2 linked regions of the Homo sapiens genome follow. The protein of the gene in region 1 purifies or fractionates together with the protein of each later gene. This does not show direct contact. Each region holds a gene or a part of one and is shown on either strand. Other genes may lie near its edges.

Region 1 (3,659 bases):
TAGCTGGGATTACAGGTGCCTGCCACTACCCCTGGCTAAGTTTTGTATTTTTTATTAGAGACGAGGTTTCACCATGTTGGCCAGGCTAGTCTCGAACTCGTGGCCTCAAGTGATCCGCCCACCTCTGCCTCCCAAAGTGCTGGGATCACAGGCGTGAGCCACCACGCCCAGCCTAATCTTAATTTTAATTTTTATTTATTTATTTTTTCTGAGACGGGGTCTCGCTCTGTCGCCAGGCTGGAGTGCAGTGGCACGATCTCGGCTCACTGCAACCTCCGCCTCCGAGGTTCAAGCAATTCTCCTGCCTCAGCCTCCTGAGTAGCTGAGACTACAGGCACATGCCACCACACCTAGCTAATTTTTGTATTTTTAATAGAGATGGAGTTTTACCATGTTGGCCAGGATGGTCTCGAACTCTTGACCTCGCGATCTGCCCGCCTTGGCCTCCCAAAGTGCTGGGTTTACAGGCATGAGCCACCGCTCCCAGCCAATTTTTCTTAACCATTGCACATATTAATTGACAACAGTTGATAAGGTCAAAGCTAACTAATTTTGGTGTTAACACACACCTTTTCAGGAATTTATCTACGTTAAGTATGGCATGCTTACAGTACATTATTGCCTGTGATACTGGAGGATAAATTTGGTTCATGGTTTAGTAATTGTACCTTTCTCTGGTATTTTTCAACCTTAGGCAAGAGATCGAATAGAAGACTTTTTTCGGAGCCAAGCATATATTTTCTACCATAACTTTAATAAAACTCTACCAGCAATGCATTTTGTGGACCACAGTTTGCAAGTAGTACGTCTGGATAGCTGTCGACCAGGCTTTGGAAAAAATGAACGTCTACACAGTAATTGCGCTAGCTGTTGTGGTAACTATAAAATATAAATATCTAAACATTTAGGTTATAGAGTCAGAAGAATATATAAGTAATTCACTTGGCATAACTGAATAGAATCTTTACAGTGATTCTCTTACCAAAAAATATATATATATTTAGCTAAAAGGAAGTAAAAATTCAAAGCCCCAATTTTTTTTTTTTTTGTTTTTTTTGAGATAGAGTCTCACTCTTTCACCCATGCTGGAGTGCAGTGGCGTCATCTGAGCTCACCACAACCTTCGTCTCCAGGGTTCAAGTGATTCTTCTGCCTCAGCCTCCCCAGTAGCTACCACAGCTGGCTAATTTTTGTAAAAAGTAGAGACAGAGTTTCACCATGTTGGCCAGGCTGGTCTCGACTGAACTCCTGACCTCAAAGGATCCGTCTGCCTTGGCTTCCGAAAGTGCTGGGATTATAGGTGTGGGCTACCATGCTTGGCCCCTTTTTTTTTTTTTTTTTTTTTTTTTTTTTTTGAGATGGAGTCTGGCTCTGTTACCCAGGCTGCAGTGCAGTGTGCAGTGTGGCGCAGTCTCAGCTTATGGCAACTCTGCCTCCCAAGCTCAAACCATCCTTCAACCTCAGCCTCCTGAGTAGCCAGGATTACAGGTGTGCAATCTGTAATTTTTGTATTTTTACTGACTAATTTTTGTATTTTTAGTAGAGACAGAGTTTCGCCCTGTTGCCCAGACTGGTCTTGGAATTCCTGGGCTCAAGCAATCTGCCCGCCTTGGCCTCCCAAAGTGCTGGGATTACAGGCATGAGCCACTGCGCCCAGCCAAAGCCCAAATTTCTAAATATAGTTATTTTAATGTATATTAACTCTTCCTGATGTACTCTCTTGTATTATAAACATTTCTATAATGTTCTGTCTTAAGCTACTGTACAATGAAGGAAAACAGAATGGTCCTACCTGGAAAGCAGAGAACTAGGAAATAGGAACTAGAAAACTAGAAATAGGAACTCATAAATGGGGCACTGCAGAAGATACTGTAAAATGCTGATAGTAAAAGAAAAAATAGGATTCTCACTTTCTCCTATCTTTAAGATCATCAAATTATAAAGTTTGAAACTCACATAATCTTCCACAACTTAAATGGGCTGAACATTACCTGGTATAATATAGGTACTGAAATGGTATGATATTAAAGGCAGATTTATATTGTTGGTATAGAATACCTCCAAGTAGTAGAGGCATAAAATATCTCTAAATTATAATTACTCCCTGTGTTTTCCTCTGCAGTGGTTTGTAGTCCTGCGACTTTTAGTCCTGATGTTAATGTAACTTGTCAGACCTGCGTTTCCGTCCTTACCTATGGAGCTAAATCTTGCCCACAAACTTCAAACAAAAATCAGCAATATGAAGATTAGAGGTGAAAGCATTGTTACTTACTTGTGGAAGTCGGGGACATAAGATGATTTTCACATCCCAGAGCATCATAGATAGTTCCATTAAGTAAAATCAGTAAGACCAAACCACTGGAAAACATGCATTTTGGAAACTTTAAAATAAATGGTTAACATGGCATTTCTAAGAAGGCATTTAATCCAGTATCTCTAGTGTACAAAGGAAACTTGAAGTTTTAATGGATTATTTTTAATGAAATGTTTTATTGTTTACAAACGGTATGTTGCTGTGTACCTAAGAGTATAGTAAGGTCAAGAAGAGTATCAAAGTATAATAAAATAAAAATTGTATACTCTCCATATATTTATTTGTTTGGAATCACTCTTGTGTGATATAAAGGCGTGTATATTATCTTTGTATTAGAACCAAAAAAGTTATTTATTTTGGTCCCTATGATTTTATTTTTTAAGATAAATTAATATACTGTATTTTTTAAAGTATAGGTTTAGGTTTACAGAATAATAGAGCAGATAATATATAGAGTTCCATACACCCACTGCACCCCATACCCTCATTCCTCCTTACACAATTTCTCCTATTATTAAGATGGTGCATTAGTGTGGCACATTTGTTACAAATGATGAACCAATATTAATTTATTATTAATTATAGCCCATAGTTCACATTAAGATTCATTGTGTTGTAAGGTTATGTGGGTTTTGACAAATTCATAATGGCATGTGTGCACCATTGCAGTCTCATACAGAATAGTTTCACCACCCTCAAAATCCTGTGCTTCACTTATTTATCCCTCCCGCCGTGCCCTGGCAACCACTGATCTTTTTACTGTCTCTACAGTTTTGCCTTTTCCAAAATGTCATGTAGTTGGTTGGAGTTATGCAGTATGTAGACTTTTTAGACTGGCTTCTTTCACTTAGCAATATGCATTTAAGGTTCCTCCATGTCTTTTTGTGACTTGATAGCTCATTTTTTATTGCTGAATAATGTTCATTGTATGGATATAGCATAGTATGTTTATCCATTCGCCCATTAAAGGAAATCTTGATTGCTTCCAGTTTTCAGTGATTAAAAATAAAGCCGCTATAAACATTTGTGTGCAGGTTTTTGTATGAACATAAGTTTTCAACCCAATTGTGTAAATAACCTAGGAATATGACTGCCGGAGTGTGACTATGTGTAGTTTTATGAGAAACTGCCATACTGTCTCCCAAAGTGGCTTACCGTTTTGCATTCACCAGAAATGAAAAAGTATTCCTGTTATCCTTATCTTTCCCAGCATTTGGTATTGTTAGTTTTTTTTTATTTTGACCATTCTAATAGGTGTATGGTGGTATTTTATTGTTTTAATTTGCAATTCCCTAATGGCATCTGATGTTGAACATCTTTTCATATGGTTATTTGCCATCTGTGT
Region 2 (3,659 bases), on another chromosome or scaffold:
ACATATAGGCAGAACAACAGAAGAAGACAGGATGTCTTGTTCTGGTCCACCACTAATGGTGAATTACCTCTAGCAAATCTCTTCATCTCTCTCTCTCATCTTTTCCATTAAAAGGGGAAAGAGTATGGAATGATACATGGCCTGCCTATTTCATTGGTCTATTATAAGTATCAGACATATGAATACTTATGAAAATATATGGAAAAGTTATGAAGTACTCTACACAATAAATAATTCTCTTTTATTAGCACGGATAACTGACTTGTCTAAATATCTACTGTAGCTCCCCAAAAGTGATAATATATTTTAGAGCAAATGATTCCTAAAATATATTAAAGAATAAACAGGGCAGGATATGGAATGACAAATACAATAAAAATGGCTTTTTCCTAATTTTTGATAGAAAAATATTTAAAAAATAAACTTCTCCAGCAGTAACTACAGTATATAAAGTGCAGATTCAAGGATATTATGGTGAATATCTACAGTTATCTAGACTCTAAGATACTTCAGATATTCCTCAGCTATTTCAATACCACAAGGATAATCCAGGATGACTTATCAATATCACACATGTCAATAGCAGGTTGTGATGTAAATGAGCAAATTCTTTCCAACCATCTCAGTTCAGTTTTATTATAGCATTTATTAAACCAAAATAAAAACATGGTGAAGAATGATTTGTCACACCATTTATTAGAGTTGATGGAGTGTAGACAGTCTTTTCAATAAGGCTTTAACACACTGTTATGCACCATAGTGCATTAGTAATGAAAAGAAATGCATGAGACTTACATCAGCCTTTCCCCCAAGTCATTCTGACATTAAATTCAAAATCAATTTTACCCTATATGGCAAGAGTTCAGAAATAAATGTTAATTTCTTTGCTGTTCACCAAAACTTAAGTTTATAATTCAAAGTAACAACAGAAATCCTTCCTATTCTACTTAATTTAATAATCATACTTTTTTTGGAGAAGGGTTCAAAGTGGGAAGCAAATGCAACCAGAAGTTAAAAAATTGTGTTTCAGTTTGTATCTGACAAAAGGATGGGATCTAATTTTCTCTCTGATTAAAAGAACACAAAGAACAGCCACAGAATGTAAATCGTGTGTTGAGTGTTTGAATTTCTCTTCCAATACCTGAGTATCTGAATAGAACTAATTCACTCTGGAAAAGGTATTAAATAATTGAGCATCATTGTGCCCGAATGAGGGCTAATTGTCAAACGTTGAAGAAAAATAAACATATTCTACAATGATAGGGTCAACTCACTCACTCAGGAACTTCAATCAAGCATTTTACATTCAAATGACAGAAACCAAGTATGTAAAGAATGACCTACCGCCAACAAGGAATCCTGATAGACACAAGCACCTGTGGGGAAAAACAAAACAAGAATTAAAAGGGATGCATAATAAACCAATAGGCACTGCCCCAGCAAGCTTGCTGCTAAAACTGCATCTATATGCATCATAACCAGGAAAATGAGCTTCTTCCAAAATCTTAAAAGCTTCAGCATTCTTCCCCTGGGGAAATAACCCCATACACCAAAACAACATTCCTTGGACACACATGAGGAAAAGCATCATTAAAACTTATGACTTGAATTTTAAGATAAATGTGTTTATAACGACATGCTATAAATACAGTAAATATTTTTCTTGGTGATAAGTCAGCAAAGCCTCCATAATCCAGTCCCATTTACTTATCCAGGCTTCCCTGCCACTGTTTGCTTACACTAAGCCTCCAGTCCAACCCAAGAGGCCAACTTAGAATCCTGTAATATATTTACATGTCTCAATGCCTTTGCTCATTTTCATTTTCTACAGGAGATGTACTTTGTCTAGTCAAGCTCTTTGAACTTGATCCCATCTCCTTTGTGAAACTTCTGCCCACCAGATTATGCTCCTCTGAGCTCCTAGCATTTTGTGCCTACATCCTCCATTTGTGAATTTATTCTTGTGTATTTCCTTTCTAAGGATGTTGAAATGTTGTATTTACCCCACTACATTATATATATGTGTGTGTGTACTACATATAGAGAGAATATATACACTATATATACCATTACATATATACTATTACATATATAGTATATACATATATATACACATGTATACCCACTATATACTATATACCATATATAGTACATATATAGTATATACACATATATACACATATATATACATATATACCCACTATATACTATATATAGTATATATATAATATATAGTATAAATAGCATATGTAGTATTTAGTGTGTGTGTGTGTATGTATATATATATATATATATATATATACACTATAAAACTGAAATCTTAACTTAAAAAAAATATAGACACATTCCCAACCAATTTTTGAGCTGCACAACAGGTCTTGATTTAACTTAGAAAGAGATGGGCAGTGTGCTGTCACCTACTCTCTCAGAAACTGAGTCTGCAAAACACATTTGAACAGTATATACACACCAAGGTGAAGCATATCTTAACAATGCTCCACACAGTTGGTTTCTAAAGAGAGAAGGACATTATTTTACCACAGTGCTTACCTCTAATGGATCATTTATGAAGTCCCAATAATATTAACTTCTCAGGAAAGAATTGGTCTACCTTCTCCTCCAGTAATGGAATTAAGAACAATCTTTAAAAAAACTGAGATGACTATTTACACTTAGGTTTGAATCAAAGATCTCTGTGGGCAAATTTATTGAAATAATTTTTATGTCCCTGATATTCTTTTTTTTTTTCTTGGTATACAACAATTTTATTGGTGTTTTAATATAATTCACCCAGAATATGAAGGCATCACATTAGCTAAGTACAAGGCATATGTATAAGCAAAAATTATAAATTTATGACACCCTTGTGCCTTTCTCCTAATGACATTTCCAACTTTTAATGGTTTGTATTTCTTCCTCTGCAGACATAGGATAATTAATATAAATATGTCATTTTTGAGTTTATATTTTACACAAACTTATTATTTTACTTTAAAATAGTTTCTAGCCATGGCATTAATATTTATTAAAATTTCTGTACATATGAAAAAAGGAATTTATTTCTATACATATGAAAGAAAGGAATAGGGAGTGTCTATAAATGAATGATTTTATAGACACTCCCTATTTTTTTATTTTATTTATTTATTTATTTTTATTATTATTCTTTAAGTTCTAATAAGAATAACTTGAGATAAAACCTTGAAGGAAAATTCTTCTTAATTGACTACTTTTTCCTTAAGAAATCTTGTTCCAAGACTTAGTAGTTCAGTCTATGGTATGTTATAAGAAAGGAAATATATATATGTGTACATATGTATGTGTGTGATGTGTGTACTAAAATAATTCTATATATCTCAAATAAATACATATGAACACAATTCACTTTCTAAATTACTTATATGGACATATTTAATTATTTCTGGTGTTTAGAAAATTTAGAATAAAGATCATCATCACTTAGGTACAATTTAACAAAATTTAAACTTTAGATTAAACAAAACTTAACTTTTAGAAAAAACACAAACAAAATTTAATCTTTAAAATAAGACTATCCTCAAATAATTTTATTGCTCTCCACAGCATTACCTTCCAAAGTCAATTTCTTTTCAAAGCTCCAAAGGAAATCAAGCACCTTAAGAAGTATCTGAGTACCCATA

What was found. Proteins that work in one complex are often made in the same cells at the same time.
Region 2: the proteins of ZPBP2 (region 1) and FRAS1 purify together in Homo sapiens (affinity purification with mass spectrometry, with the first as the bait; one large-scale study listed by BioGRID). This does not show direct contact.

The regions. Positions count from the first base shown.
Region 1 is NC_000017.11:39,874,560-39,878,218, forward strand, and holds the end of ZPBP2 (zona pellucida-binding protein 2 isoform 2 precursor), read left to right. Parts: intron 1-694; coding exon 695-875; intron 876-2,122; coding exon 2,123-2,250; 3' UTR 2,251-3,337; downstream 3,338-3,659.
Region 2 is NC_000004.12:78,063,702-78,067,360, reverse strand, and holds part of FRAS1 (extracellular matrix organizing protein FRAS1 isoform 1 precursor), read right to left. Parts: intron 1,377-3,659; coding exon 1,345-1,376; intron 1-1,344. UniProt on the Homo sapiens protein: Involved in extracellular matrix organization. Required for the regulation of epidermal-basement membrane adhesion responsible for proper organogenesis during embryonic development. Involved in brain organization and function.